Homo sapiens: one gene and its partners. The protein of the gene in region 4 interacts with the protein of the main gene of each other region in a pairwise test. Each region holds a gene or a part of one and is shown on either strand. Other genes may lie near its edges. The genes, in order: TMEM229B, GIMAP5, LRP10 and GORAB.

Region 1 (7,955 bases), on a different chromosome or scaffold from region 4:
ATGATTCAATTACCTCCCACCCAGTTCCTCCCACAACATGGTGGAAATTCAAGATGAGATTTGGGTGAGGACACAGCCAAACCATATCATTCAGATTGTCTGGCGTGAGTGAAGCGAGCACTCACACCTGGGAAACAGCATCTACTTTGGCCGTCAGGCTTCAGATCTGTGCAGTGAGGACCATGCATCACCTGGGACTGGACTCTGCCCAGAAGCCATGAGCAATGCATGTGCTGCTGGTCTAGGAGGCCTGGAGTAGGGCATCCAGGGCCCTGGGAGGTGGGGGGATTTGTGAGCCTTAGCTGCCATAAGAGTGACCACCAGGGGATCTGGAGGAGCATGTCCTCTTGCTTTTGTCACATATCAGCAGCAGCATCTCCTCCTCAGCGAGACAAGCTCGAGGTAGGGTGAGAGGCTCCTAACTGCACAGCCCTGCCTGTCCTCACAGGCCTTTCTTTCCAGCCTCAGCCCCTGGCTTTTCCTTGATGATGCCTTAAAAAATGACAATTGGCTGCTTTCCCAACCCCCAGAGGCCTGTCTGGCCTGAAGGCTGTTATGTCTGTGCAGGGCCCGTAGCCTGGTGGGATCAGAGGCCTGCAGGAAGGAAGCTCCCCAGAAGGCATGGCAGGCAGAGCTGGGCTTTTGCAATCTTGAACAGACAAGCTTTTTTTGGAGTTCCTAGGCTGGTCCATGGGAACCCAGAGCTTCAGATTCCATGCAGGAATTTGCAGGGAGTAGAAAAGGGGTAATCAGGTCTTTTTCCACTTTAGGTAGATCTTGACTCTCCTAGTTGACAGTTTATAATTCAGGGCCAGAATCTGTTTTCCACTCAGCCTGGGCTTACAAAGTCAGTTTGACTGGAGAGTTTCTCAGGAAGTGTGTTCTTGAGTTGATTTGTAGCCAGGGTGGTGTGAGCAAGCCTAGACTGTAGGAGGGGAGTTGGGGGTAAAGAGATGGCCATGGGTGCCTCTGTGGGAACGTCGTTCCTCAGATGGGAGGCACATCTCCCCAGAGCAATTTATGCCATCAGCCTTAAGGCTGTTGTACCGTTTGGTTCAGTGATTCTCCTTCTGGAATTATCCATTAAGATATATTATTAGGAAATAGTACCAGAGAAGAAAAGGGCTGAATTCTTCCATTACAGGCATTAAAGGTAATTCTCGTTATATCATCTGTAGTAGTAGAAATGGGAAACAACTGTTCCCTTTGGACATCTAGGTTAAGTAAATTACAGTTTTCCGCTTGCTGGAATATTACACAGCCATTATAATAATGAGCACAGAGGCTATATAACAACTTGGAAAAACAGTTATGACAAGTAAAAATGGCAGGTTGCAGAATAAGTATATTATGGTGACTTGTAAAATACACACATAGGAAAATATTGCAAAGGAGAAATGGTAATCGCTGTTAGTTCAGAATTATGAGTGCTTTTTCTTTTTTTTTCTTTATTAGAAATGAGGTCTCACTATGTTGCCCAGGCTGGTCTCAAACTCCTGGGCTCAAGCAGTCCTCCCGCCTCAGCCTCCCAAAATGCTGGGATTACAGGTGTGAGCCCCCATGCCCGGCCTATGAATGCTTCTTCTATGATGCATGGATTGGCTTTTTAAAAAATAAAATTGAATCCGGATGACTACACAACATACCATTAATAGTGACTTTCTCTAAGATGTGTGATTACAGGGAACTTTTGCTTTCTATGTCATTCTGTAATGTTTAAATTTCAGCTGTGAGCACATGTTGCTTTTATAATTAGAAAAAAAATTAAATGCTAGAATTAAATGTTTTAGAAGGCTATATTTCTCAAGAAAGGAGGGAAGAGAGACCGAGGCAGCTAGCTGTTTATACCTGCCCTCATCAGTGTTTAAGGGCCTGGGCCTGTTTGGGCCCACTCATCCATCCATTCATTCCACAAGTATTACTAGGTATTATTGCCAGGCACCACTCTAGGCACTGACTAAACAGCAGTGAACAAGACAGTGCCCCTGCTCTCATGAAGTTTTCATTCTAGTTGAGGAGAGACAGACCATAAATAAGTAGCAACATATCAGAAAGTGAAAGTGCTATGTAGAAAATAAAATGGAATGATGTGAGTGACAGAGAGGCTATTTTGGACTGGGGATCAAAAGTCCCTGAGATATGACAGCTCAGCTGAGATCTGAATGGTAACAGCAAGGCAGCCACATACAGGTCTGGGATGCCAGCCTGCCAGTCCCCCGTGCAGGGCATCCTTCGCTTTCTGAGCCCCAGGGACCTCTGTGCCAGAACTGACTCCATCCCCCAAGCCCACTCACCCTGCCCTGCCTCCTGCTGCGGTTTGCTTGGGATCTGAGGCCCCCTGAAATCCTCTGTGTTCGGACCGCTCCTCCTGACATGCTGGCTGTTGCTCCTCTGGGCAGCTGGCCCCTGCTCTTGGCTGGTGTCTCCATGGCAGGGCTGGGCCGGGCCATCTGAGACTCCCAGGAGCACTGGTGTGGGCTGGCAGTCAGGGGGCCTCTGGGTTGTGTGTGTCCTGGTGAGGGGCCTTTGAATGGCGCATGCCTTGGGGCCTGAGGGTTGGTTGCTGTCATGGTCCTGTGACTGTCAGCTTTGACCCTGGAGGGCCTCTGTGTGGATCCCGAGGAACAGGCTGGGAGCCTTTAGGAACTCTGACACCCAGTTGGGAAGTTTGTTAATGAACCACCTAGAAGTTCACAACCTTCTCCTTGCTTCCTGTTGTCTCTCCACATACCATCCCAGCCTTCCAGAAGCAGGAACTCAGAAAATGGTAGTGCCCTCAGAGGAGCCTGCAGTCAGCCTCGGGGGCAGTGCAGTGTGCTGATTAGGAGCAAAGACTCTGGAACCAGATTTGTGGGGTTTGAATCCCAGCCTTGCCTTTTATAGTTATTAGAATGTAGGCTCGGCCAGGTGTGGTGACTCGTGCCTATAATCCCAGCACTTTGGGAGGCCGAGGCAGGCAGATCACTTGAGGTCAGGAGTTCAAGACCAGCCTGGCCAACATGGTGAAACCTCGTCTTTACTAAAAATACAAAAATTAGCTGGGTGTGGTGGCAGGAACCTATAATCCCAGCCTCTTGGGAGGCTGAGGCATGAGAATTGCTTGAACCCGGGCGACAGAGGTTGCAGTGAGCCAAGTTCACACCACTGCACTACAGCCTGGGTGACAAAGTGAGACTCCATCTAAAAAAACAAAAAACAAACAAAAAAAGAACGTAGCCTCTTTCTGCCTCACTTTCCCCATCTGTAAAATGGGCTTGAGAATTTTTTGAGTTAATACATGGAAATACTGAGAAGAGCACCTGGTTATTATTATTACTGTGACTTGGGAGGTGGAGGGAGGACTTCATCAAGGCCTGCAGTATCACTAATCCCAGGGGCTTTCCTTGGGGGGCACCCACAGCAAGAGGGTGGAAGTCTGCAGCATGTGCACCAGCCAGTGGCTACAGGAGTTTCCCTCCACTTGCTTCCCTTCTGGCCCTGGGCAAGCCCTATTTTCCTCCCTGCTAACTTGATGACAACAGGGGAAGTTCAGGGAGGTTTCTGCCCTTTCCTCATTGAAGCCACTTATCTTCAGCACAGAGCCGCCCAAGGGCTCCTGAAGCTGTCCCCCGCTGCGTTGCCTCAGGGGTCTCCTAGAAGGGCTGTGGGTCTCCCCAGAACATGGAACTGTAGTGATGGGGGTGGCTGGGGATGGGGAGTGAAGCTTGGGAAGTGAGTGGAGTGAAAGCGGAAGGCCTTCCCAGCCCGGTTGCATGGGAGGGGAATCCCAATTTTCTGGCCAGATGCTTCTCTGGACAAAAATTCCCAGAGTCACTGTGTTGTGGCACCTTAGCCCCCTGAAACAAGATGGGAGTTTTTGACAAAACCAAGGGCAGTTATTCCATCTGGTTTTGCCTTCAGCCTGTCTTAGACTTTTATGGCAGCCTCTTTACCCCTCTCAACTGCTGGCCATGTCCCCTGCCACCCTGTGGAACAGCAGGCTCGGAGAGCAGCCGGTGAGATGCTCTTAGTGAACAGGGCTCTGAAAGCCAGATCCCCTTCCCCTTCCCCATCACCTGTTCCCTTGAAGGGGTAGTTCCTAGACCTCACAAGTCACCTTGAGTCCTGGCCCTTCGATGGGACTCTGTTTGCCCAGGCCCTTTCATCAGGTATGAGGACTCTCGGATTTGAATGTTGTTCAATGAAACCCTGCTTGTGAAGCTATCCTTTGCTCTCCAAACTCTGTCCTCCTGCATTCAACCTTGCTCACACTCTCCTCCTCTTCAATCCACCCTGAATTTCTGTTCCTGGGCTGTCCTATCTTCATGTCACAGGTCTCAGGACAGTTTTGTTTGTCACCAGGAGAAAGAAGCCAAGGTCCCCTGAGCTGCCGGTTCTCCCTGCAGCAGGCTTTCCCAGGGCTCTGATCCCAGGGCTGAGCAAGGAGCTAGTGGAAGGAGCCTAAGGATATAGGGAGTCGGGTGGGTGGAGGCCGGGGCAGGGAATAGAGGCCTGTCAGGCCCTGTATGGGGTGGGCGAGCCTGTCCTAGCTCAAAGTTAAGCACAGCTCCTGTGCTGATTAGAAATGGGTTTGGAGAGTGGGGTTCTGAAAACGCATCCAAGTCAATGCCCAGCCTCTAATATTATCATCTTCCCCACCACACTGGGAGCTGCCACCTCAGCCAATGACACTGTCTCCTATTCCTTTCTCTTCAACCCCATCTTCTGCCCTGACTCAGGTCTTTCATTTCCCCTGTTGGTCTTGCATGGACCAGCTATGTTCTCCTAGTTCTGCCCTCGGACACTGTCTGACATTGCCGTGGTGTGCTTCCCCTCCATCTACTACCCATGGCTTCCTGCTGCCCAGAAACAGAATCTGGGCTTGGGGCACACCATATTTCTCTCTCCCCCATCTCGCTTTTTTGTTTTTCTTTCTTTCTTTCTTTTTTAAGAGACAGGGTCTTGCTCATTGTCCATGCTGGAGTGCAGTGGCACAATCATAGCTCACTGTAGCCTCAAACTCTTGAACTCAAGGGATCCTCCTGCCTTAGCGTCTGGGACTACAGGCACACCACATCAAACCAGCCTACTTTTTTTTCTTTTTGTAGAGATGGTGGTCTCGCTATGTTGCCCAGGCTGGTCTCGAACTCCTGGCCTCAAGCTATTCTCCCACCTCAGCCTCCAAAAGTGCTGGGACTGCAGGCATGAACTCCATCCTCTCTTCTGTTCAGCAACTTCCTGTCTCTCACCCTAGGTTTCTCTCTCCCTTTGACAGCTACCCCTTTCTTCTTGCTTCTGCTCCAAGGGTTTTGGGATCTGACTCTCCCAAGTTACTTGCTGGGGTTGGGGAAGAGACTGGACCCTCCCGTCTGTTACCAGCTGGGAAACCGGTCTGGGCCATCCCAGAGAGATCAGAGGCAAGAAGAGCAGGGTTTAAAGTCAGCTTCAAGGCTGGGGTCTGGCCTGAGTAATGAGATCCACACAGTCATGTCAGGCTGCTGCAGGAGAGCCCCTGTGAGGTTCCTGTTCCCTCAGCCCGGGCCCTGGGGGTTGGAAGAGCCAGGGGGATACGTGCAGGTCATGGGGCCTGAGTTGGGGTAGGAGGTCCAGAGGTCTCCACATCCCTGTGCTGTGCCATCTGTCTCAGGCCCTCAGACCGCCTCAGTGTGTTCCCCTGGAGCCTGGATCTGTTCTCTCCTGCCCGGGGGTAGGAGGTTAAATGAGGGGGTGAGAGGCTGTGCCCCTTTCATTCCACCATCTTTTCAAGTCTGCCCCTCGGGCTGGCTCTGACACCCTTCCTCTTCCATTCATCCCTCGGTAGCCACAGGGAAGCTGGAGGCTCACCTTCAGTCTCCCGGGATGTCTGTGGGAGTTTTGTTCTCCTGAGGGCCATATGTGGGGTTATTATTGCCACCCGATTTCTTGGCTCGCTAGCTTGGTGCTCAGGGTTGTGATGAAGACCTAACCTGCTTGACAGGAAGGGCTGCCTGGAGGCTGCCGAGAGCAGGGGCACAGTGACCCTGCATCGGGTAAGAGGCGGTGTAAAAGCAGGAGGGGCTGTCCAGAGGTCTGGCTCTGTGCCAGAAATGACAGCTGCCCTTTCTGGAGCCTTAGCTGTATTTTAAGTAGTGTATATGTACGAGTTCATTCGTCCTCACAACAGCCTTCTGTGGTCATTACTTCCGTTATCCTCACTTTACCTACAAGGACCCTGAGGCACAGGGTGGTTGGGCAGCGTCCATTAGGTCTCACAGGTGGAAAGCATCAGCCAGGATTCCAACCCAGGCAGTTAGGATCATCTGGGGTCCCTGAACTTAACCAGCTGGCCATATTGAGACCTGTGAGGCATGGTTTGTTGTTGGATGACACAGGAGGGAAGAGCCTGCAATAATTTTACATGACTTCAGGTTTCTTTGGGTTCATTTGCTTAGCAAATTCATTGAACACCTTCTATACACGAGGTATGAATACGGTGAATACATATTCATTCCACAAGCATTTTTTTTTCCTTTTTTGAGACGGAGTCTCACTCTGTCACCTAGGCTAGAGTGCAGTGGCGCTATCTCGGCTCACGGCAACCTCCGCCTCCCAGGTTCAAGCGATTCTCCTGCCTCAGCCTCCCGAGTAGCTGGGATTACAGGTGCATGCCACCATGCCCGGCTAATTTTTGTATTTTTAGTAGGGATGTGGTTTCACCATGTTGGCCAGGCTGGTCTCGAACTCCTGACCTCAGGTGATCTACCCACCTCGGCCTCCCAAAGTACTGGGATTACAGGCATGAGCTACTGCACCCAGCTTCCACAAGCATTTTTTTTTTTTTTTGAGACAGAGTCTTGCTCTGTAGCCCAGGCTGGAGTGCAGTGGTACGATCTCGCTCACTGCTACCTCCACCTCCTGGGTCCCGGTTCAAGCAATTCTTCTGCCTCAGCCTCCCGAGTAGCTGGGATTACAGGCACACGCCACCACGCCCAGCTAATTTTTGTACTTTTAGTAGAGACAGGGTTTCACCATGTTGGCCAGGCTGGTCTTGAACTCCTGACCTCATGATCCACCCACCTCAGCCTCCCAAAGTGCTGGGTTTACAGGGTGAGCCACCACGTCCAGCCTCCATAAGCATTTTTAAGATGAAATTTTAGTTTTATAAAAGTTATACATGCTTGTTAGGAAAAAAAAGTATGCAGAAAAATATAAAGAAAAAAAGCACATATGATATCACCATCCAGAGATGATTGTTGTTTAATTTTTTTGTATATGTGCACATATGCATGCCTTTGCAGAATCGGAGTTAGGTTGAATATTCAGTTTTGAATCCTGCTTTTTTCTCTTACCACTATCTTAAACAAGCATTCCTCAGGAGGCTGCTGGTGCTGGCGTTCAGATGAATCCAGTGAAGCAGAGTGCTCACTATTACCACAGAGAAGGGAGGGTGCAGAAGTGGGAAGACAACTCTGGAGTCAGGGTGCTTAGGAAAGTCCTCACAGAGGAGGAGCTGGGTCTTAAAGGAGGGTTCACCGGCCCTGGGTGGGGCCCAGGTAGCAAAAACAGCAAGGTAGAGATCTGGAGGACAGGATTGGAGGCAGGGACGAGTTGTGAAGGGCTTTGCCAGCCGTCCCCAGGGGTTTGAGCTTTATTTACTCTGTAGATGTTGAAGATCCACTCATGGGCTTCAAGTGGTGAGAAACATCGGATTTGCATTTTAGAAAGGTTGCGTTTTTTCTACACACTCTTTCATCCTGTGATGAGTGAATTAGAAGGAAGAAGGCAAAGCTGGGAGACCTTTGGAGTCATCCAGGTGAGACATGATGAGGGCGTGAACCAGAGCAGTGGCAGCAATGAGAAGAGTAATGAAGAGGAGGGGATGGATCCCAAAGATATTTAAGAGGTGGTAAGGGTGGGAGTTAGTAGCTGACTTGGTGGCTTTCCCTTGGCCAGTGGGATGATGGTGGGCATGGCTTAGCCAGGGTCTTGAACCACAC
Region 2 (7,775 bases), on a different chromosome or scaffold from region 4:
ACATAGTGTGTAAACAGAAGAGGCTGCTCTCAACCTCAGATGCAACTGATCTCAGGCCTCGAGCCACCTTGGGGTTTTGGGGGGCTCTTTGTCTCCCCTCTGAAGGGTGAGGGGGAAAATATCTCAACAAACCTATAATTGATAGACAGCTCAAGGGCCGAGAATTTCCAATGTAATGACTCAAAAGGAAATCAGCCTGGTGAGGGTACACCTCAGCAAGCTCAGAAACATTATTCGTGACAGGAAGATATCAGCTTGTGGATCCCAAGATGCTCACCAGGAGACATTCAGTTGCAGGTGATAATGTCAGGGTAGAGGAGGGTCTCATTAGGCTTTCAGGAGGGTCCACCCCACTCCAGATGCAACAGGAGCTGTCCTCCATGGTGCCAGCCAGGAAATCTTCAGGGACCTTATCATCCCATCTGGACCTCATCTAACTCATCTAATAAACAACTAGAGGAGAGCGTCAAGGCATGCATTCAGTCCTGCTGCTCCCTCTTGGCCTTTTGAGCTAACTAAATGGGTGAAGGTTCTACTCTAAATGCAATGCTATGGAATTAGACAACTAGACATCAGCTACCCAGACAACTCCAGAGGTCATGACAACAAGCTCTTAAACCTGCTCTAGGCACTGTCCTGCCCTGACACCTACATACTCTCTGCTTCCTTTAAAATAACCGCTTCAAAGGGCCCCTTCTCCACCTCCAGTCAACCTTGATCACATGTCCAAGTTCTACTCCACACCTCAGGGCTTTCTCCTTGGGGTTGGTCCGTTTTGACCTCTTTTCTTCCCAAAATCCTGCTTAATACATTGTCTAAAACTGTGCTATCATGTATTTTTTACCATGACCCTCAGTTTTATACTGCTTCCCAGAGCTTACATACACTCATATTTTGTGTGACTAATTTTGATAGTTTCTATTCTACTCTATTTCATGTTTTGATGCTCTACAATGGGGTGTATGAAATACACTTGTCCAAAACATTCATTTGGGACCCTTACTCATTGTCTTTCATTTGCATAAGTCTTGTCTCTCTAATAAGATTTCAGATTCCTTACGAGGGTGGCTTTTTGTCTGCTTCCCATGGGTGCTGTCTGGACTTACCACCCATTAGGTCTGGTGTGGTGCAAAGGCTCAGGAGAATAGGGTAAATTTGCTTCAAAAGATGCAATATTTAGATACTTAGAGTGTACTTCATGGCATCGTTAATCCTTCCTCCATGTTGTATGTCAACTGTGGGCTCAAATAGTGGCCCCTTTTATTGACCTGGATGTTTCTGAATCCTCAACTCTACCTCCTGGATTCACCCCTAGATGATCTCCGCCCCCACCGTGAAGCCTCTTCAGCAGCTGTGGTCTCTGTAGAGCACCCTGATCCAGGAGGCTCCTTTCCTCACCTCCAATTAGAGGCGCCCCTGACCTGGACCCTCTCAGCCCTGAAAAGAGTAGCCATGACCTTGTCCAGACACAAAGGAAATAATAATGTTGATAATATAGAAATGCCTGCATTTTAATACTTTTTTTCAGCATCTTTTACCTGCTCTTTGATTTTCGTAAGAACACAATGTTCTAAAAAAAAGTTCCAAGAAAGAACTTTTTTTAGAGTGACTACCGACAAGGAAGAGAAATCACACTTCAGCATTTGGCTTCAGGGCCTCCCAACATTGACTTGGGGTTTCATTTCCACATTTCCCACTAGTCATGTTCATAGGAGACCTTCATGGAATAGGGTGAGATGATGGATGAAGAGACAGAGGCCAGATGGTGAAAGACAGCAAGCATGACTAAGAGTTAGGAGACCTTGTGGTGACCAACAGGCTCACTTTGACTGGGACTAAGGGGTTTCCCAGGACGTGGGCCTTGTAGTACTAAATCCAGTCAAATTCAGGGCAAGTTGGCGGTTGGTCACCTAGGACCTCAGCCCAGTGGCTCAGGAGAAAGTGGTAAATGCCATGCCTCCTCTTTCCCTCATTCTCCCTTCCTCCTTCATCAGAAGGCAATAATTGTCTGTCTCCCATTTCAAACAGAAGGTCCAAGGCATGAACCCAGGGGTCCTTGAATCACTCCAAGTTGGTAGGGAAGGTGGCTGCCCAAAATGTCTCCGAGATGGAGCTTTGGCATCTCCTCAGCTTAATAAAGCTGATTCTCAGGGCAGCCTACAGGTATCTACTCTGAGATGGCTACTGCACTCAGAACTCCAGAAACTTCATCACATAGCTAGAGCACATGAGTTGCAACTCAGCGTGCTCAGTTCTGTGCACCAGGGAGCATCACAGAGAGAAAGCAGGGATAGCAGAGGTGGCTGGGGATGGATAGAGACATGCTTTCAGTAATGATTCATCATATTTTGTACTATGTCAGGTTTGGTAGAGAACTGTCTCTGTCCAGGCTGAAAAGGGATTGAATTTGGTGTCAAACAGAAGGGTAGGGAAAATGGCCACTTCCTCGGTGTCCCAGGTTTCCTGGGGGTTTGTTTGTTTTGCAAATCTGAACAGAGGAATAGAGAGGGTGTGGAAAAAGGCACAAAGAGTCTAGTTTTGGAAATCCTTTCATATCTGGATATATACGAATTTCTACAACCCTACTTTCTGAAAGTAGCTACCTAAGATTATTCTTCTAGCACTAAATGTAACTACAAAAGGGGACATGAGGGAAGAGTTAGAGCATTTAAGTTGTATGTTTTACTGATTTACTCAGTAAGTATTTTTGAGCACTTTCTAGGGCTAAGTTCTAGCAAGATCCTGACCTAAAGACAGTCCCTGGCCTCTAAAAAGCCCACGATCTCACCCAGAAAACTGATAGAGACCAGTTAACACATTTCATCATTGACTCCCTGGGGTCTCTTTGAGCCATAAGAGGAGCCTGGGAACTGCTAGAGAAGAGATAAGACTTAGAGAACAGATCTCAAAGCAGAAAATCAGTCCTTAGCTGGGGTGCCAGAGCACCCAGTTCAGTGGATAAAAATAATGTTTGCAAATAGTTCAAACCAAAAGGAAAGAAGAGAAGGAGTTTGAAGATGTTGCCAGAATTAAGTGAATTTGCTACATTGATGGGAATGGTTAGCTTCGGTGCCCCTCACTGTTTATAAGATTTTGATGTGAACTCTGTTGGTCAAGTTTTTGAAAGATTCCAGCCAGGTGCTGGGGGAGTACCTGGTCCCTATCTAGCAAGGGTGAAATCCTGGTCAGATTACAGCCCACTTTCTGCCCTGCTCTGCTCAATTCACATAAATTATGAGTGCTGACTAGGTTGAAAGTCCTTGAAGAATTTAAAAATGTAAGGGCGAATAAAAATCAAAAATAAGGAGAAAACATTAATTCTCTTTTCTGGGGAAAAAACAAAGTGGAAAAGAATTACCCCTCCCTTCTTAGAGCATTTTCTTTAGAAACCTTGTAAGTGTGAAATCTTTCTCTACCCTTTGTAATGCAAATCTTTTTAAAAGCTGTTTGACAGCCCAGGGCTGTCTGTAGAGCATCTGGAAGCCATCCCTTTGAAATGCAAACATCAAGGAAGGTAGCGTCCCCACCTCCCAGTCTCTGTGTGAAAATAGGGGCCTAATTTAGGAGCCTAACTTAGGTAGGAGCCTGACATCTGCCAGCACCTTTCTGAGTTGCAAATCTTCCTCTTGCCATAGAGGATGTGAGAAGTTTACTTTTCCTCTGGAAAGACAATTAGCCAACACAGATGATTACTGAGTGAATTTAGGATGAACTATGCATGTCAAAGGGTGCTGTCAAGTCCTCTTACTTGAGGATTAGTTATGGTTTAACTTGAGAACACGTGTGTAATAGGTGGCACCTGCCTGGCTGTATAACCAGGTGGCATCCCTCTCCGTCTTTGCAATCTCTTCCTGGATTGTCTGGGATCCAGATCACATTCTGGTTCAATGGACATTCAATAATAAAATTGTTTTCTTTCTCTTCTGCCTCTGTGGAGAGGTTTTCTGGGCTAGCAGGAGATTGTTTAAAATTGTTTTCCCATCAAGTCTTAGACAATTGTTACCATATGACTGTAAGCCCCACTTCAAATGTCAACAGAAAAGGATATGGGGATTCTCTGGGCCATGACGGCCCTCCGCCTAAGTCCCACTGTGTTCTCCATCGCATAATTGCCTTATGTCCACTGCCCTAACCTTAAATGGCAATCAGGTTTATGTCCACTGCCCTAACCTTAAATGGCAATCAGGTTTATGTCCACTGCTCTAGCCTTAAATGGCAATCAATTCAAAAATAGAGGTTCTATCACCCTGCTTTCAACCCTTACCAGATAAACTGACACGTAGACTCCACAATGTCCCCACAGGGTGGGCTCCATCACGTGCCAGACAGCTTACCAGGGTCAGTCACGAGCCCAGAGTCAAACCCTGCAAGGGCTTGTTCTGGTCCTCTTTGGACCAGAGTGCCTTTCTGATCCTGGTTAGCAGAAACTTTCCAGAAGCAGAGCCTGTGAGAAGGGGCCCAAGAGTGCTGGGAGGAGAAGGTGCCCCGGTGATGGGTGCTGAGGGCAGCAGCTGCTGCCCAGAACTTTCCAGTCACTAGGGACCTTTTCTGAACTTGGAAGTGGGAGAGTCTGTAATTCCCTTCATATCTCCTTCTTCCAAATACTGCTTGCTTGAAACAGTCAAAAAAAAAAAAAAAAGGAAATGGGATGGGGCACACTGTCCCAGGGCAGGCTCATGACAGGAAGTGACCCGTTAAGGAAGCAGCACATCGCTGCATTCGGCTGGTTTTCAGGGTCTTGTTCCCAATCAGTTTCCAGCCAACACCAGGGTGTCCTAGTCCGCAGAGGTGTGGGGGACACACTCCATAATCTCTACTTTTCTTTTTGTGCAGCTGAGTCATGGAGCTTTCAGCCCCAGCACATGGCTCCTCCTTAACTGCGTCTGCTCAACCTCCCTCAGCCCTGTGAACAGCATCCCCGCACACAGACGCAGAGCAGGACTCTCTCTGCTGCCACTTCACCTTCCTGAGAGAGGACCAGCGGCCAGAGCCTCAGTGACTGCCACCCTGGAGGACAGGGCACAACAACCGTTTCTGGTAAGGAGAACTGGGTTTATGCTCACAGAGACTTTGGGAATTGAAAGGATCACAGTTTGGTCACAGCTGTTCATTTCTGACATGACCTTGCACAGATCCCCTCACTTCTGGGTTCGCTGGTCAGTAAAACGGGGCAATGGTGATGAGTGTTGCGGGCATCAGCAGGTGCACAGCTGGTGGAGCACAGCCTGAAGAATCTGTGCCTGCACTCACAGCCCAGTCCCAGGACAGCGGGCTTTGCTGCCCCATTGCCCATTACTTAGCCAAGTCGATCTCCATGAAACTCTCAGGGAGTAAGGCTGAACTGATCCTCTCATCAGTGGGACAGATGGGAGAACTGAAGCTCCCAGAGGGTGATAGGCTTTCCCCCATCTCCCCTAGCATGCCGGGGCATTCTTCTCAATTTTACCCTCCTAATTTCTCCTGTCCCAGACCAGCCAGACACGTACCATGTCTCAGACAAGCCTGGGAGCTGAGGATGGATTCTTAGGGCTCCCCAGGGCAAATGTGGGATATTTTCCCACCCCAGGAGCCTCATGTTCCAAACAAGACCCCTGAGTGGACCTTGTCTTGTGACTTTCAACTTCTGAAAACTACCCCATGCTCCCCCAGATGCCCCACATTTTTCCTATGACACCCTGCCGGACGCACACCAAACCGCAAAACACATGATTCCAATACCTGGAAATACATGGGCTGGGGCAGATGGGTGAAGGAGATACTTATGAACAAGGAAGACAAGAAGTGGTTTGATCTTTTCTAAAATAGTATGGAAGAGGCTGCTTTCTTGTAATTTGCTAAAATAAGCTCTTCTCATGGTAAAATCAGGTTCATGCAATTTTCAAATCGGAATGTGCATTTTGTTCATTTGCTTCACCCTTTTCCCTGAGCCAGACCCTCCCACCAGCTTGCCAGAGGCTGCTACTGTCTTGCTTGCACACTGCCTTCCAATCTCTCATGAACTTTGGTCTCTTTTGTGGGACGATTAGTAAAATTTTTCCTTTGGAGAAGACGCCTGTCTTCATTCTCAATTCCTCCACTTTTGTCTGCCCTGTAGACCAACACGTATCACATTCCTTCAAGCCTACGGTGTGTCCACCACGCTCTATTCAGTTCTTTTATAATCTTCTCCATGACTCATTTTAGCATTGCCATCAGTATCCTTTCTGACTCACCTGTGAACACTTTGTTATTTGTGAATATCTGCCAAAAAATGTATTCCTCAATGCAGCCTGATCCACTCAGAAAGCTTGGATTGGGAGAGCTATTGTTGCTGGTCATTGGCTAACATAACATAGTTTGACTGGCTTTTGTGACAGGCAATTGGCTGTTTTAAAAGAAAAGACCTCAATTCAGAGAAACTCCTGCCACCAGCAATTTTATTTTTGAATAACCTTTTATAAGAAATGCACTCAAGATTTTGCAATAAAATTCTGTGTGTTGGTTTTAGGGTAGGCTTCTAGCTGTCCAATTAATTTGTCTCCTGACCAGGGAGTGGCAGCATTGTACACATGTTCCAAGAGGTTTGTTGACTTTTTTGGAAAAGTCTCTTTTTCCACCTGTGGAATCAAGGACAATACACAGCAAAAGGAGCCATTTCCTGATGCTAGCTCCATTGTAAATATGTGACCTTTGGCAGGTCATTTAATGCTCAGTTTCCTTGCATTTTAATAGAAATTTTAAGATCAGTTTTGATCACATCACAGGGAATTTGAGAGAGCAATTAAAATAAGAAGGATGAAATAACTTTGAAAATTATAAATGTATTCACAGAGGCTTATTACAATTATGATGTTCATAATCAATATCATTACCACTGTCATCTTGACCCTTACCACATCATTATGTTGATTCCAAACCTCAGAAAACGTCATCTAAAGTAGAGAGGATGTCAGGGAACTGGTGCTATTTTAGCAAAAGCCAGAAGCATAATTTACCAGAGACGAGAACAGGGTGTGGGAGAGAGGAAAATGTTCTTCTCTGGGCTTAAGAAAAAGAAAGAAAGGAGAGAGGGGAGGGTAAAGAGGAAAGGAGGAAGAAAAGAAAGAAGGGAAAGGGAGGGAGGCAGGAAGCTGTCTTAATACATTCTGATAATATAAAAATAGATTTCTTGACCTAAAGAAGGCCAAGAAAATCCACTGAATGAATAGAAAAATGTGGAAAAGATAGAAATCACAGAAGTTATTAAAAATTGAAGTTTATAAATTACCAAAATAGCAAATAAACCATGAAAACTGTTTTTAATTTAATGATAATCAGTAAAATGTAAGTTTAAGCCAATTAAGACATCCTTATTTATGCCCATAAGGATGACAGGAAATTAAAAGTGTAATATTACTAAGTGCCTGTGAAGATTTGGGGACTTCTTATAAATGGGTGGTGCAAATAGGAGTTAACTCAACTCCCTGGGAGTCATATTTGGCAATAACCAGTCACGTGGAAAATGTACATCCCCAATACTGTTGCACAATGCTGGAAACCCGGAGCAGGCAATGAGTTGTTCTTGAATTCGGCCTGAAGTTGATTCTTTCTCTTCAATCACCTCACTACCTCCTCTCCACCAACCGTCAGGGTGGGAAAGCGGTCATACCGGTCCCCCTATACCATTTCCTCTCACGTCAGTTCTTCGTGTCCCTGATCCCCACTTCCATCCTCCCACTGGACAGTACCTTGTAATTTCCTCTCCGCCGCTGGAATGTCCATTTGACACAAAGACTTTCTGGGACTGGAAGTTTCCA
Region 3 (7,955 bases), on a different chromosome or scaffold from region 4:
CAGATGCTGTGCTAAGTACTTTCTTGCATTATCTCCTTTCATCTTCTTGAGCCCAAGGCCCACAGTGGTAGGTGGGTGCCCCGTCCCTAAAGCAATCTTGCAGCTGGAAAATGGGAACACCAGGAATCCCACCCACATCTTTCCAGTGCCAAGGATTTTTCATTTCTACATTGTGCAGCTTTCCTTCTCTTAAATATTCCAACTGTCTCCTATTATTGGGAACAGTCTATATTGCTATCCTCAGTGGACTCTTCCAATGGAAGAGGCAAAGAATAATCTTGGGAACAATGTGCAGTGACACTTCACTTATTTGGAGGTCAGCTATAGGGCAACAGTGCAGGGTTTGAGGGAGCAGAAAGGACCCCTCAGCTGCTAAAATACTCCTGTGCTTTACTCACTGGGTAGATTCTCCAGTCCTCAGTCATGGCCTACTTACTTTTACTTTTTACTTACTTTTATTCACAATTTTAACGTGTCCATGTGTGTTCCTGTACTAGTAGATTAGAAACACATTTAGAGTAGCAAGTGACCCCTTGTAGTCAGGGAGGCAACACCACACACACACAAAATAACATTTAAAGCACTCATATGCATTTTATAAGTGGTCTAAGGTCATTTAGCATAAAAGCAAATAGCTCCCCGTGCCCCTACTGTTACAACTTCAGAAGACACTGCTGGAGAAAAGCCATTGGTTTCTGTGAATGATCCTCAGTTATGCAGAAAATTATTATATTGCAGATATGCTGAAGACAAGTGTAACATTTTAGAATGACTTCCTTCCAAAATGAGTATTTTTATTTTTTTCAGAGGGAGGGTCTCACCCTATTGCTCGGGCTGGACTGCAGTGGTGCGATCATGGCTCACTGTAACCTCAACCTCCCGGGTTGTGCACTTGCCCGTATCCAGGCTCCCTCAGGAATGGGAGGTCCCATGGAATGGTGGGACAAGGGTGAGATTTGGAACGAAGCCATGCCGGCTCTAAATCCACCACTTGGTAGAGACTGGGCCAGTCTTCTGATTTCCCTAAAGCTCCTCCTGAGCTTGCAAAATGGGGTTTATGATGCCCATGGCCCAGCCCTGTTGTGTGGGTTCACTTCAGGTGATGAAGAATCTGGCATCATCGGGCACTCACTTTTTTTTTTGAGATGGAGTCTTGTCTCGCTCTGTTGCCAGGCTGGAGTGCAGTGGCGCGATCTCAGCTCACTGCAACCTTTGCCTCCCAGGTTCAAGTGATTCTCCTGCTTCAGCCTCCCGAGTAGATGGGACTACAGGCACGCACCACCATGCCCAGCTTATTTTTGTATTTTTAGTAGAGACACGGTGTCACCATGTTGGCCAGGATGGTCTTGATCTCTTGACCTCGTGATCCGCCTGCCTCGGCCTCCCAAAGTGCTGGGATTACAGGTGTGAGCCACTGCGCCCCATCCAGGCACTCACTCTCTAACCACCTAGGTGCTTCTGCAGCCTTGGGCTGTGTGGCTGGGGGGTCCTTCTCCCCTCCTAGTGAGGTCTGGAGCTTGGTTCAGGCCCATGATTTTTTTTTTAAATCTATTTATTTATTTTGAGACCAGGTTGTGAGACTGGCTAATTTTTAGTATTTTTGGTAGAGACAGGGTTTCATCATGTTGCCCAGGCTGTTCTTGAACTCTTGGCCTCAAGCGATCCGCCTGCCTTGGCCCCTCCAAAGTGCTGGGATTACAGGTGTGAGCTACTGCGCCTGGCAGAATTTTGTTTCTTAAGGACTGAGTTCTGGTATCTTCTTTTCTTTTTTTTTGGAGAAGGAGTCTCGCTCTGTCACCCAGGCTAGAGTGCAGTGGCGCGATCTCCACTCACTGCAACCTCCGCCTCCCGGGTTCAAGCAATTCTCCTGCCTCAGCCTCTCGAGTAGCTGGGACTACAGGTGCATGCCGCCACACCTGGCTACTTTTTTGTATTTTAGTAGAGACAGGGTTTCACCGTGTTGCTCAGGCTAGTCTCGAACTCCTGAGCTCAGGCAGTCTGCCTGCCTTGGCCTCCCAAAGTGCTAGGATTACAGGCGAAAGCCACCGTGGCCCAGCCCTGGTATCTTCTTTTATCTTAGGCTCTAGACTCTGATTCACAGCCTGAACCCTATCTCATGCTGAAAACACCTCCCACCTTCCCACCAAGAGCCTTAACGTGGGTCCCACACCGCTAAGACCAAGCACCTTGGATATTGGTATCTATCTTGATGGAATTTTAGGTTGCCTCATTTCTTTTTTTCTTGGGCCCTGGTGGAAATAAACCTGAGTGACTGCTCCCCAGTGCCATCACTTGGGCAGGACACTCTGTCTTAGTTTCTCCATGCTGCCTGTACAAGGTCAGTCCCCTATCCCGGCTAGCTTGGGGCTTCACTGTGGCTGACAAGAGTATTATTACTACCTACACCTCGTACAGCACACAACCAGAACCTAGAGAAACTTCTTTCAGGCCCACTGATCTATAAGCACAAGCCTCCTTAGTGAACTCTGCCCTAAAGTCCTCCTTCCAGCATTTGGAAGCATTCCACCATGAGGAGCAGGTTTACCTTAAGTCTTTGTCCACTTTCAGTTTGCAATACCACTAGGAGAGAAAAGGTCTGGATGAAGGGATGAAGATATCAGGCTGCAGGTATTTGAGGTGGCTATGGGGGAAGAGAAGAGCAAAGGAGAGGGCAAAAGACCAGGCTATGGAGAGGCAGGGGAGGGAAAATCACTGCTTCACTATTTCCATTGGGCCTGACGCTGAGTGGATCCTGGATTGTTTGCGTTTGGGAAGGAGGGCCCAAAGGGAGAACAGTAAGCAAGAACCAGGTTCTCCAGAGCCCTCTCCCCAGTCTCTGGAGAGGGTCTGCAGTGAAAGGAGCTCGGGTCTTCCCTGAGCCAAGGTGCCAGGGTCCCAGAACTGCACATGGGCCCACACCCCTCTCTGCTACTTCCTCAGGCTCTTGCTCACTAGAAGAGAGGAAAATTGTGCAATTAGTGCTGGGTTTGAGGAGGCTGACAGGGTGTAATCAACAGGGCCTCTCCACCAGGTGTGGGGCTAGGCTGGGTGATGGGCTCTGCCAGGCGTGGGGCTAGGCTGGGTGACAGGCTCTGCCAGGTGTGGGGCTAGACAAGGAGAGCCTGAGGGGAGCCTCTTTCCCCAGGGACTGGGTCCGTTAGGGAATTCCTCAGTTTTGTTCCTGAGGCATCACTCCCACCCCCACAGCTTCCTTCTACATCTTCTGCCTCGATCTTCCTTCCAAACTCTGGGGCAGCTTCTGTCACTTTGCTCACTAGGGGCTGGGTTCCAACACTGCTTGCGAATCATTCCCTCCATCACCCACCCCAGCGCTGCAGCTCTGGCCGCTGCTTGTGCTCTCAGGCCCAGGGTCTTTCCTATAACCCTTGCCCTCTTGTCTCCTCCGTTTGCTTGTTCTGGGGACACTCCCCCTGTCTAGAATTCACAGCTCTATTCCAACTGCTGACAGCATTCTTTTGGTTCCAGTTTGGGCCCTCTTCCAGGAAGACCTCTTGGATTTGGCCATGGTGATGCCAGCACCACACACCCTGAATGTTTGTGAATTCTCCCTCCACTCACCTTTGCCTGCCTTGAGGTATCCTGGCTGAGAATTCATCTGTCTTGCATAGGACAGACTGCTAAATGCCTGGTGGGTGTGGAGGGTGGAGGGTAGGAGTCATGACTCCTGTGTCCCACCAGGGACAGCTGCTCCTATGATCTGGGCTCAGGGTATGCTCCAAAAATGAGAACCTTCCTGACCGCAGGGCCCAGCTGGCTCCCCTGACTTCTATGCTGGCAGTGAGGAAAGAGGCCCTGGAGTCAGTCATTGCAGAGCTGGGCCCCAGGCATTTGAGTGAAAATGGAGAGGATTGATCCTTAGGGTTCCTAGAATTTTCTTACCTTCTGTGTGGTATAAAAATCAAGAGTGCAGTGGTTGGGAGATGAACAGGAAGAGGGCAGGAGGTAGAGGGCCAAGCAAAGGGCTCCACAGGGAGGAGTGGGATGAGGTGAGCATAGACTGAGATGGGCAGAGGCGGGGCTCAGGCTCGCAGCTAATTTGCAAAATTTTGAGATGTATGATTCCTTTATTTTTGACCTCAACTTACTGAGCAATGCCGTAGCTATGGAATAGAAGCATTTGTTGCACTCTTTTTGTGAGCCAGGCCCTGTAGGAGGGATTGTGGATGGCAAAACCTCAGGTTCTGCCCAAATCCTCCCCTTGGGGGCTGGAGGGTCTCTAGTTAATTGGCATTCCGGTGCTTAAGGCCACTTTTGGGTAGAGGTTTGGCAAGGATGGAGTGTCCAGACCTATGATCCTCTAAGAACTTTACTTTTTAAAAACAGCCACCCAAATGGTGGTGGCGTGGGGAGCAGGTGGTGGTGAAGGGACTGGGGTGTCTGGCCATGGCCACGTACAGAGGAGACTCTGTGAGCCCTCTCCCTGCCTGAGGGACACTTAACTTTATAGCAGCTACATAGGGTCAACGGGAGGCCCACCAAGTCCCTGAAATCCAGGGACAGGGAAGGAAGTGGTGGAGGGGAGGCTGACCCACCTCTAAAAGGTTGTGCCACTATGAGTAGAGCCCCCAGGGGAGAGGCCTCAGTAGAGCCCCCAGGTCCCCTCAGGTAAGCAGTGGCTCATCCTCTGCCTCAGCTACCCACACCCCCGGCTCAGCCAGTGGCACCAGTAGCACATCGTCCTCATCTTCCAGGGCCAGGACTGCTGTGTGGGGTCCAGGGGGGCTCCGGGTTGGTCCTGGGGGCCCCAGGCTGGGCAACAGGCGGCCTCGCAGGGCCTGCACCACTCCAGACAATAGTGATGGCTCTAGGGGCAGTGAGGGCAGTGGCCCTGGGGCTTCAGGGACAGTAGTGGGGGCTGGAGACGTGCTAGCAGATGGGAGGGGAGCCTTGATGGGCAGTGGGGGTGCCTGCTCCCCATCTTGCCCACCCACTGCCCCGCCCTCACGGGCTGGACCTGTGCCACCATCTAGGGCCTCAAGGGGAGCAGCAGAAGGTGTGACCTGGGATCTGGCCTCAGAGGCCCGAGCCGGGGTGTTGGTTCGAGGGAGCAAGCCCCAGCGGCGGAGACGGCGTACCAGGCGTCGCATCAAGCGGCCCCGCTGACGACGGCGGGCACCTGGGCCACCTCCTGGAGTCATATCCTGGCGTAAGATCTGTAGCAGAGAACGCAGGTTGCCCAGCACTGAGTTCTGCAAGGAAATGAGGAGGCCTCAGAGTCAGAGGGCCAAAGGCTGAATGAAGGAGGGTACAGGGGCGGGGCCACAGCAGAACTGGGACCAGGAGGTGCTAGGGTTGTGGGGAGTGACTTACATCATTAGGATTCTCTGTAGGAAAGTCTTCTACAGGTGGGATGGCACCCTGGGCAATGAGCTGCCCGTAGGAAGGGGGTGCCTGCTGCTGCACAATCTCAGCCTCCATCCGGGAGAGGGGGGCAAAGATGCTAGAAGGAATGAGGACTGCTCAGTCACTGGTAGTTCTCGGCCAGAGTAGACCACCTCAGCCTGGACAGTCCTCCCACTTCCACACCCGGGCCAGGCCAGCTGGAGCTGTGCCATGGCTTTCCCAAAGGTCATCTGAGGTCCCTCCTCCCTTGAAACTGCTTTCAGGATCTGGACCTGTCCCTTACAGGACACAACTGACAAGCTGATCATGGGAGCCTCTCCCCAAGGTGGGCACTTTCGTGGTCTCCTGTAGCTGCACAGCCCAGCCTCACCCTCAGGGTCTACTCTTCTACTGCCAGCCCCACTCCCACTGACCTGTACTCCTGGGTGCGAATGGCATAGAGCTTGCAGGTGCAGCCCAGGGCGATGACCAGGAGCAGGCCGCACACTAGGCTGCCAATGACTGCAGCTGTAATGACCTTGCGGGGCAGAACATAGGAGCAGTCCCACTCATCACTGCCGTCCGCACAGTCTGGCTGCCCATCGCACACCCACGTCTCATACACGCACTTCTCGTCCCGGCATCGGAAATTGCCAGGCTGGCAATGCCGACAGCGTCTCTCATCTGCTCCATCAGCACAGAAAGTCTGGTAGTTGCAGCGGTCAGCAGGCAGGTAGCAGGCTGTGGCACCAGAGGTGCCAGCAGCCCCACAGGGGAAGTGTCCAGGTGGGCAGCCTGGGCAGTCCTCCTCATCTGTGCCGTCAGCACAGTCCCATGAGCCGTCACAGCGCTGTGCCTCACTGTAGCAGCGCTCACCTAGGCCTTCGCCAGCTCCCAGGCCAGAGCCTAAGCCACAGGGTCTGTCCCAAGGCAAGCAATAGCCCCGCACATGGTAGGTGGCATTGAAGCCACGACCATTGCTCCAAGCAACTGTGTGGTAGGACACAACAGCCTGGCCAGACAGTGTCTCCACAGTGACAGCCTTGCCATTGCTGAAGTGGGTGAGACTACGCAGTAGTCGGGAGCTCTCAGGGGGCCCAGGGCCGTCATACACATGCACTGCATCTCCAAAGCCCAAGTCCAGGGCTGTGAAGCGCACGGCCAGCCGCCGGCCATCATGGGGGTCCAGCAGCCAATGGCAGGACTGGGGGTGGGAGACTGAGGCTAGGTGTGTATATCCAGGAGAGGAGAAGACCCCATAGAAGTCCTCCAAGGTGACATTGCAAGGCAGGGAGGGGACGGGTCTTGGGGTCAGGCCAGGGAAGGGGTCTGAGCTGCAACCTGCTTCATCAGAGCCATCGCCACAGGCATCAACCCCATCACAGCGCTGGACAGCAGATACACAGCGGTGGTTCAGGCACTGAAACTCTTCCTGCAGGCACATCAGCCAATCTGCAGAGGCACCATGGAGAGGGGCTGTGAAGCACCAGAACCCTCAGGATCCTCCCCTTCTGCCTGGGGCTTTCACTGCCTGCTCCTCAGACATCCCTGTCCAGCCTACCTTGGCTGTAGGAGAGCAGGAAGCCCTGGCCCATGGGTGCTCTGGCCCCAGCATAGCTGTAAGTGATGGTGACGTTGCCCCCGGGCAGCTGCAGAGGGCTGGGAGGTGCCTCACACAGGGAGATCAGTGGCTGGAGAGGGGAGCGTAGGGTTAAGCGCTCTGAGCCACAGGCCAGGTGTAGCTTCTGGAACCTATGGGAGTAGAGGAGAGCAGGACATGAGATACTCTTGACTGCTGCTGGCTTTCTCCTCCCCTGGTGCCACCAGGCCCCTTGTGTCCCAGGAAGCATAAACATCTGCTTATCCATGATCTAAATGGCCAAATGAAAACTCAGTTAGCCTATTTATTTATTTATTTAGAGACAGAGTTTCACTCTTGTCACCCAGGCTGGAGTGCAATGGTGTGATCTTGGATCACTGCAACCTCCACCTCTTGGGTTCAAGTGAGTCTCCTGCCTCAGCCTCCCAAGTAGCTAGGATTACAGGTGCCCGCCACCACACCTGGCTAATTTTGTATTTTTAATAGAGATGGGGTTTCACCATGTTGGTCAGGCTGGTCTCGAACTCCTGGCCTCAGGTGATCCACCCGCCTTGGTCTCCCAAAGTGCTGGGATTACTGGCGTGAGCCACCATGCCCGGCAGCCAAATTATTTTTAAGTCAATGTAGTCAATGGGGATCTTCCTAACATGGTAGGAATACCTCATGGTATCGCCATGAGACCATAAAATATATCCTAGAGCCCTTTGGAAAAATTGACTTGTGTTCTGGGACTGAGTTAAGAAGAGGTGCACTGCATTCCAGTTGTTGTAGCACTGTCACCCAAGTATGGTACCAGCAGTAACTGGTGATTACCATACAGTTCAATTAACCAGAACTCACCATCTTATCCCACCCCACTGTGCCAGATGTGAGACCTGGATTGGTTCTCCATGGCATTCTGATCCCTTTGCCCCACCAGCCTCTCCACAGATTGCCCTCTCTCTTTGCCTACCCCTTTCTGGGTAAATTCATGGAAAATGAACTATGTGAGGCAAACAGCCAGGTACTTAAT
Region 4 (7,955 bases):
AAGTTTGAACTGTGATGGTTCACTTATACACAAATGTGCATTTAAAAAATACAGTATTTGGGGGATGCAAAACCTGAGTATATGGAGGGCCAACTTTTGGTGTATGTGGTCTTCACAGCGCCAACTGTGGGACTTGAGTATGCACAGATTTTGGTATACATGGGGATCCTGGAACCAATTATCCTCATATACCAAGGATCAGCTAGCTGTATATATAATATATACAGTCACGCACTCAATAACAGTATTTCAGTTAGCAGCGGACCACATATATGGTGATGGTCTGGTAATATTATAATACCCTGTTTTTACTATGCTTTTTCTATGTTTAGATACACAAATACCGTTGTTACAGTTGCCTACAGTCTTCAGTATAGTGACATACTGTACAGGTTTGGAGCTTAGGAGCAAAAGGCTGTACCATATAGCCTAAGTATATAGTAGGCTGTACCATCTAGGTTTGTGTAAATACACTCTCTGATGTTTGCGCAAGGACAAAATTGCCTTACAACACATTTCTTAGAATGTATCCCTTTGTTAAGTGACGTATGATTGTATATAGTGGGGAGGCGTGGGAATGTGATCAGGGAGAGGGAATTTCAGAGGTATTGGTATTTATGAAATCAGGTTAAGACAAGTTAAGCTAAAGTAACAAATAGCCCTAATAAGTCAATTGTTTAAAATAAAGATTTGGTTTTCACTCGTTTCATGTTTAATGTGGGTTTGGCAGGTGACTGTGTTGCACAGTCACTCCGTTTTTTGGTGCTGTCTTGTAGGAGTTTACCATAGTAGGAAGAAAAGAAGATTGAAAATTGAACATTGGCAATTAAATCCTTTCACCAGTAAATGACATGTGACACTCCTACTTTTATTTACCAAAAGCAAGTCATATAACTTGGGAGACAGGAAATAAATTCTCTCTTCTAAAAGGAGGATTATGTCTATCCTTAAAGAGTAGTTACTTCTACTACTGTCATATTTTATTTCTTAAACTTTCTTTTTAATCATATAGGTTGGAAGACTGAGTGTGTGTGTTTATGAGTGTAACACATGCATATATTTGATGTATGGTCTATTTCATAATGAAAAATTGGAAGAAAACAGTACAGCCACATGCTGTCAATTTTTAGTTAAATTATTTATTCAGAAGAGTTATTCTTCATACTGATTCTTTGCCAGTTACATTATGAATATCTTCTCCCAGTTTTTAAGTTATCTTTTCACTTTTATCTTTTTGATGAACAAAGTATTTTATTTTTTGAGACTGGCTTTCACTCTGTTGCCCAGGCTGAAGTGCAGTAGCACGATCATAGTTCACTATAACCTTGAACTCCTGGGCTCAAGCGATCCTCCTGCCTCAGACTTCCAAGTAGCTGGGATTACAGCTGTGTGCCATTACACCATGCTAGTTTTCTTCCTTTCTTTCTTCTTTTTTTTTCTGTAGGGATAGGATCTTGCTATTTTGCCTAGGTTGGTCTCAAACTCCTGGGTTCAAGAAATTCTTCCTCAGCCTCCCAAAGTGCTGAGATTACAGGCATGAGCCACCACTCCAGGCCTTAATTTTAATGTATTCAAATATGTCAACCTTTTTTTAATAGCCAACATTTCCATGTCTTAAGAAATTAGTTTCTTACTATACTTAGTATAGTAGTTACAGGTGTGAGCCACTGCACCCAGCCAGTATTCTTGACCTTCTATCTTTTCATATAAAAATTTTAATAATTTTACCAAATTTAATGGAAAACCCATTAGGAATTTTGATTGTAATTGCATTGAATCTTTAGATCAATTTCATCTTCATATTATTAACATTGCCACTAACGTGGTATATGTCTCCGTTTATTTAGTACTTGTTTAAATTCTCAATAAAATTTTAGAGTTTTCCCTATAGAGGTACTAAACATCTTTTTGTTAGATTTGTTCCTAGATAAGTAATAATTTCTGGTATTGAAATATATTCTCTTTAATTGTATTTTCTAATTGTTTTCTGCTGATATATAAAAAATACAAGACAAAAGAAAAGTCAACAAAAGACATGAATAGATATTTCCTAGAAAAGGAAATATGAAGAGATGCTCATCACCACCAAGGAGCAGAGAATTACAAATCAAGAATACAGTGAGGTACTATTTTACACCCATTTGATTGACAAAAATTAAAACATCTGACAGTATCGTGTATTGAAGAGAAAGTGCATCCACAGGATCTTATACATTACTAGAGGGAGCACACTTTGGAAAGCATTTTCACATTTCTTCTAAAGTTATATTTTGTGACTCAGTAGTTCTTAGATAATATCCAAAGCAAATTCTTGTACATGTAAAATAAGAGACACATTATTGAAATTTACAAAAGCAAAAACCTGTAACCAACCTAAATGTCTATCAGTGGAAGAAGATCAATAGACTCTGGTTTATTCACACAATGAAATGTTATACAACAAAATGAATGACTGCTGAAACATAGACAATATGAATGACTATTGACAGTGTAATATTAAGTAAAACAGATGTACAGCACAAAACCCTTTTTATAAAGTCAAACAACTAAGTAAATACTTTTTAGAAATATTTGTAGATGCAATATGACTATTAGAGAAGGAAGAGAATAATCAACATATGATTCAAATGATAGTTTTCTGAGGTGGAGGGAGCAGGGCTTAAATAAAGGATATGGAGTATATATCACAAACTGGTAGCCCATTAGCTTAATTTAACCCAAAAATGTATGTGGCTTTTCAGCTTTGCCTCCTTTCTTTCCCCTTCTTTCTTTTTTCCCTCCTTTCTTCCTGCCTGCCTTCCTTTCTTTCCCTTCTTCCCTCCCTCCCTCTTTCATTCCTTTCTTTCTTCTTTGTCTCTCTTTCTTTTATCCAATCTTTACATTTCTTTTAGTTAATAATGGTGATAATCATTGTGTTATTTGCTAAGCCAGCTATACCTGTTGCCTTTGTTTGGGGGTAGGTCCATGTACTAGGTTAGCCATTGCATTGTGAGCAGAAGTGTTATGTCACTACTGGGTCAGCAGTTAATTGCTATAGCAAGACCTTCCTGACCTCTCTCTTCTCCTTGTGTTGTGGTGGCCAGCAACACTGAATACTGACTGTACAGTCAGCCTAGAGCCTTGAGAGACTAATCAGCAGAACCTCTCTGTTAGCCTTTAGTTGGCACTTGGCATTAATGAAAAATAAACCTTTGTGGTTTAAAACCACTAAGATTTGCCCCTACAGCGTAATCTAGATTTTCCTGATTGAAACAGTTCCCTACATTTAAAAATCAAGATATTTTACATAAAAGTCTAAATTGTAATCATAAAAATCAAAATATCTGGCTATGGTGACCTAAATTTTTTAATGATAGCAATTGACTAAAGGTGACTCGGAATTTGCCCCCTTTACACTAGACTTACGCTTCTCAGTTCACCACAGTCTCCTTGATATTTGCAGCCCCTAATACAGAGTGTGGGAAGCAATATGTTCTGTGTTTAAGTGGCCTGATTTGCTTATTGTTTATTGTTTAAAATTAGCATTTTCAGTCTTATAGGTAGGTTCTGTAAAAATGCAAAATAAAATAGAAGTTACTACCTGAATTTCAGAGGAACTATTAATAATTCAGCTAATGAGTTCAACAGGGAGATAAGCAGGCTAAGTGACATTTTTTGATGGTGTGAATAAAGATCAGAGCCAAGAATGTGTTCCTGTTGCAAGATACAGGATACTTTGTGTTTCTGGCTAAAGTCAACAATAACATTTGCTTTTGATAGTACTTCAGTCTTTTAAAAAATATTTTCTGTACATATCTCATTTAATTCTTACACCAACTTCATGCATTAAGTAGAGCAGGTTAATTTTCAACCAGCTTGATAGATGAGGAAACTAAGGTATTGAATAAATAATTGACTTACCTGAGGTCACTGAGCTGGGCAGAAGCAAAGCTGGAATTGTGACTCTAGAGCTTTTAACTATACTTTGGGAAATTCAAATAATAAGCTTGTTTTGCTTCAAAAGTCAATATGCCAAATTTGAAAGTCCCATTTGAGTTGTTCATTTACAAGAACTGATAACTTCACTTCCCAGGCATTTAAGAGAGAATGCTATTTATAGATCTTATGAAATATAGTATGAATGTGGGTCAGATTCTCCAATTGTCTGCCCTAAGATGTTAACACTGGCATGGACAGTCCAAAAAGTATAATAGAAGTGTTATTATTTATAACTTTAAAGATATTTCCCCCCAGTTGTTTTATCTTCTATTGCTTTACTGAGGCTACTATTAAAATCAGTTTGAATGCATTGATTAGAGCCTGACTAGGCTTCGGGGAGTACAACCTTGGATTGTTCTGTAGGATGAAAGACAACAATTTAAGGTTAACTAGCATTCCTAGAAATAAGAGACTTCACTCAATTACATGCCTGTTATAGCATCTGAATATGTATCACATATGTACCAAATTGCCCTAAAAGCTGTTAAAATTTAAGAGAGGGTAATCCCATTTGAAAATGCAACCACCATTTTGTTTCAGTAGAGCAGACAGAACCATAAATCAAATTTAAAACCAGATAATTCAGTCACCTCCCTGATTTGGTCAAAATTAGTTGCTTTCTTTTGACAACTATGAAATCAAGTTGAAAAAGAAACTTCACTTTGTGACCTAAGGCCTAACTCACTGATGGACTTTCTCTGAAGATAAATTAAGAGATGGGGCAGTTTCTGTTAAATATTAACATTATGATCTGAAAACTATTGAAACTCTACAGGAAGATGGCTGTTTTTCCCCTAGACTTTCAAGATAGAGAATGGGGTAGGAGAACCACTAGAATTATCAACGTTTAATGTTAATTTTTTATTTTCTTAGAGGAATTATAATTATTTGCTGCCCACACAAAGGAATTTTCCTCTATTTTCTTTTACATAGATCCATTTGAACCACAGCGACGTCTCCCCGCGAAGAAAAGTCGACAACAACTTCAGCGAGAAAAAGCCCTTGTAGAGCAAAGCCAAAAACTTGGGCTTCAAGATGGATCAACCTCATTACTTCCAGAGCAGCTGCTTTCAGCACCAAAACAGAGAGTTAACGTTCAAAAACCACCTTTTTCTTCCCCTACTCTTCCGAGTCATTTCACTCTCACCTCCCCCGTTGGTGATGGACAACCACAGGGCATTGAAAGTCAGCCAAAGGAACTGGGACTTGAGAATTCCCATGATGGTCACAACAATGTTGAGATTCTACCTCCAAAGCCAGATTGCAAATTGGAGAAAAAGAAAGTGGAATTGTTAGTAAGTCTATGTGAAAAGTCCATGAGACTTTTCATTTAACCCGTTTTTTCCCAATGGGCTTTAAGGAAATATAATTTGTTTATTTTAACATTTTCTCTCCTTTATATTCATTCAATCATAGGAATGTGATGTATAAACTATTGAAAAATAGCTACTGCCTAAATATAAGCTGGACACAGGCATTCTGTATGTTTTATGTTCTTTAGTCTTCATAACAGCCTTACAATGCATGTTTATTATTTAAACTTTATACATGAGGTATCTGGGACTCAGAAAAGATGATACCTTTCTAAAGCTAATACACTGCTAGTAAATAGTAGAGATTTACAGATAAGTCTGTCTGGATCCAAAGTTTATGCCTTTTACACTGAGCAGAAGCAGTTCTTTTTTTCTTTCTTTTTTTTTTTTTTTTGAGATGGAGTCTCGCTCTGTTGCCCAGGCTGGAGTGCAATGGCGCAATCACAGCTCAGAAGCAGTTCTTATATGCATAGTGCCTCTGCCCAAATTGACCCCTTTTTTCAACTTCCAGACTATTTCCATTGGCCCAGAAATTGGAACTTGTGGAGAGACGTGAAGGGATGGTCAAAGGAGAGAGTGTAGGAAATTTAGGGGACTAATGATATAACTCAGTTCATCATTAGATTTCTTTTTATTTATTCTTTACTGTCTTTGTATTAGAAACAACCTTCATAATTTAGCTACACTGTTCTTGTGGAAGATGCCATTTTTTGATTTGCAAATTCTTAGAATTTTTTATTTGATAGCTTGTGTTTTAATATATACTCTTATTTCTTTGTTTGCTCCTGATTTATCTCTCACAGAGAAGGAATGACATTTTTCTGTTTTCTCTTTTCTGAGTTCTTTTCAAAGTATCTTTTTTTTTTTCTAATCTCTGACATCTTTTTAATCTCTGCTGATCCAGATTCTATCCTGTGAATTTAAAATGTTTCCTGTCCACTAGGGGTTTACAACTAAGAAATCATTTTGACAAGAGTTATAAAACCACATGAATTATGAAACCTATATTGAACAAGTGCATACATTAAAGTGTCTCTAAGTGTAGTTTACTAACAAAGGCCGGAGACAAATAGGAGGTAAGTTTACATTGAGCTGGACAATTTGGATTGGATGTTATAGGGAAACTTATTCTTTTTTTGGATACTTGGAAGAATTTTCATAAAAGACCTGTAACCTCAAACCATTCACGTAAAGGAGAAATTTTGAGGTTTTAAGGAGGAGAAAGGAAAGCTGTGTCCTAGAGAATGTTCAGAGATGATACCTCATTTCTCTGGGAGAGGTGGCAAAGGATAAGCCAGAGAACAGTAGAGAATTAAAGAAATGAGGAAGGAGGACAGGCGTGGTGGCCCACACCTATAATCCCAGCACTTTGGGAGGCTGAGGCAGGCACATCACTTGAGGCCAAGAGTTGAAACCAGCTTGGCCAACATGGGGAAACCCTGTCTCTACCAAAAATACAAAAAAATTAGCTGGGCGTGGTGGTGCATGCCTGTAGTCCCAGCTACTTGGGAGACTGAGGCACAAGAATTGCTTGAACCTGGGAGGTGGACGTTGCAGTGAGCCAAGATCATGCCACTGCATTCCAGCCTGGGCAACAGAGCAAGATTCTGTCCCAAAAAAAAAAAAAAAAAAAAAAAGCAGAACTGAGGAAGGATCAGAAGCAGAAGCAGGGGATGAATAAGTAGAGAATTAAAGAAATGAGAAAGGATCGGAAGCAGGGGATGCCTTCCTTCCTAGCAAGTTCACTAATGCAGCAAGTTACCATGAAGCTCTCTGAGGGCTAAAGGCCGCAATCAAAATAAAGGTTAGAGAAATCCCAGGTGTCAATATTGTAGATCATATGCAAGAGAGTGCATAGTGAGCTGTGGAACTAAGGCGCCTGGTGAGGAGATGCCTGCAGTAGTAAAAGTGAGAAATGACCAGTCCCAGCACTAAGGTGGAAGGTGTAGAAATGGAGAGAGAAGGACAATTTTGGAAGGGGCTACTAGATTTGGGAATAGAGGTATGTGATATAATGGCTGTAAGAAGTGACAGTAATAGGAATAAATAGCTTTGCCAATACCTTGTTTAATTTGAGTTGACATCAAGCTCATGACTTTATGGGAAATTTTAATGTATTTATTTTAGAATTGGACAGATTGTAAGACAATACATGTTTTCACATCTTTGAATTTTTTTCTTTAGCCCAGCATTCCAGTCTTAGCTCTTAGTGTTTTACTTTGTTTAAAAATGTCCAAGTTGGGCTGGGCACAGTGGCTCACACCTGTAATCCCAGCACTTAGGGAGGCAGAGGCGGGAGGATAGCTTGAGCCTAGGAGTTCGAGACCTGACTGGGTAATATAGCGACACCCTGTTCTCCACAAAAAGGAAAAAAGAAAGACAAAAAAAAGTCTTAAGAGTTGGGAAAAAGTGAGCAAATTGAAAGAAAATATTAATATATGAAATAAACATTGGTTATTGTCTGAAACATGTTAAGGTGGTGGAGACTTTATAGAAAACTCTAAAAGGTATAAATAATATGACATCAGCTACAAACCAATTTTTATTAATCTCCATTCTGCATATAATACATAATTAACTTACACAAATTTCTTTGTACTCCTAAACACATGCCACAGTATTCTGGCTTCCAGTTTGTGGATTCCTAGATTATATATATAATGG

The links.
Region 1: the proteins of GORAB (region 4) and TMEM229B interact in binary tests that used the Homo sapiens proteins (3 or more experiments, as listed by UniProt).
Region 2: the proteins of GORAB (region 4) and GIMAP5 interact in binary tests that used the Homo sapiens proteins (3 or more experiments, as listed by UniProt).
Region 3: the proteins of GORAB (region 4) and LRP10 interact in binary tests that used the Homo sapiens proteins (3 or more experiments, as listed by UniProt).

Annotation. Positions count from the first base shown.
Region 1 is NC_000014.9:67,478,257-67,486,211, reverse strand, and holds part of TMEM229B (transmembrane protein 229B), read left to right. Parts: intron 1-7,955.
Region 2 is NC_000007.14:150,732,672-150,740,446, forward strand, and holds the start of GIMAP5 (GTPase IMAP family member 5), read left to right. Parts: upstream 1-4,746; 5' UTR 4,747-4,833; coding exon of another isoform or gene 4,834-5,037; intron 5,038-7,775. Other genes in the region: GIMAP1-GIMAP5 protein, read left to right, coding at 4,834-5,037. UniProt on the Homo sapiens protein: Plays a role in T lymphocyte development and the optimal generation of CD4/CD8 double-positive thymocytes. Inhibitor of GSK3A, possibly by sequestering GSK3A in cytoplasmic vesicles and impairing its translocation to the nucleus.
Region 3 is NC_000014.9:22,874,195-22,882,149, reverse strand, and holds the end of LRP10 (low-density lipoprotein receptor-related protein 10 isoform 1 precursor), read right to left. Parts: intron 7,096-7,955; coding exon 6,905-7,095; intron 6,820-6,904; coding exon of another isoform or gene 6,796-6,819; coding exon 5,778-6,795; intron 5,462-5,777; coding exon 5,332-5,461; intron 5,211-5,331; coding exon 4,623-5,210; 3' UTR 2,952-4,622; coding exon of another isoform or gene 2,949-2,951; 3' UTR 437-2,948; downstream 1-436. UniProt on the Homo sapiens protein: Probable receptor, which is involved in the internalization of lipophilic molecules and/or signal transduction. May be involved in the uptake of lipoprotein APOE in liver.
Region 4 is NC_000001.11:170,534,299-170,542,253, forward strand, and holds part of GORAB (RAB6-interacting golgin), read left to right. Parts: intron 1-2,011; exon of another isoform or gene 2,012-2,123; intron 2,124-4,911; coding exon 4,912-5,269; exon of another isoform or gene 5,270-5,273; intron 5,274-7,955.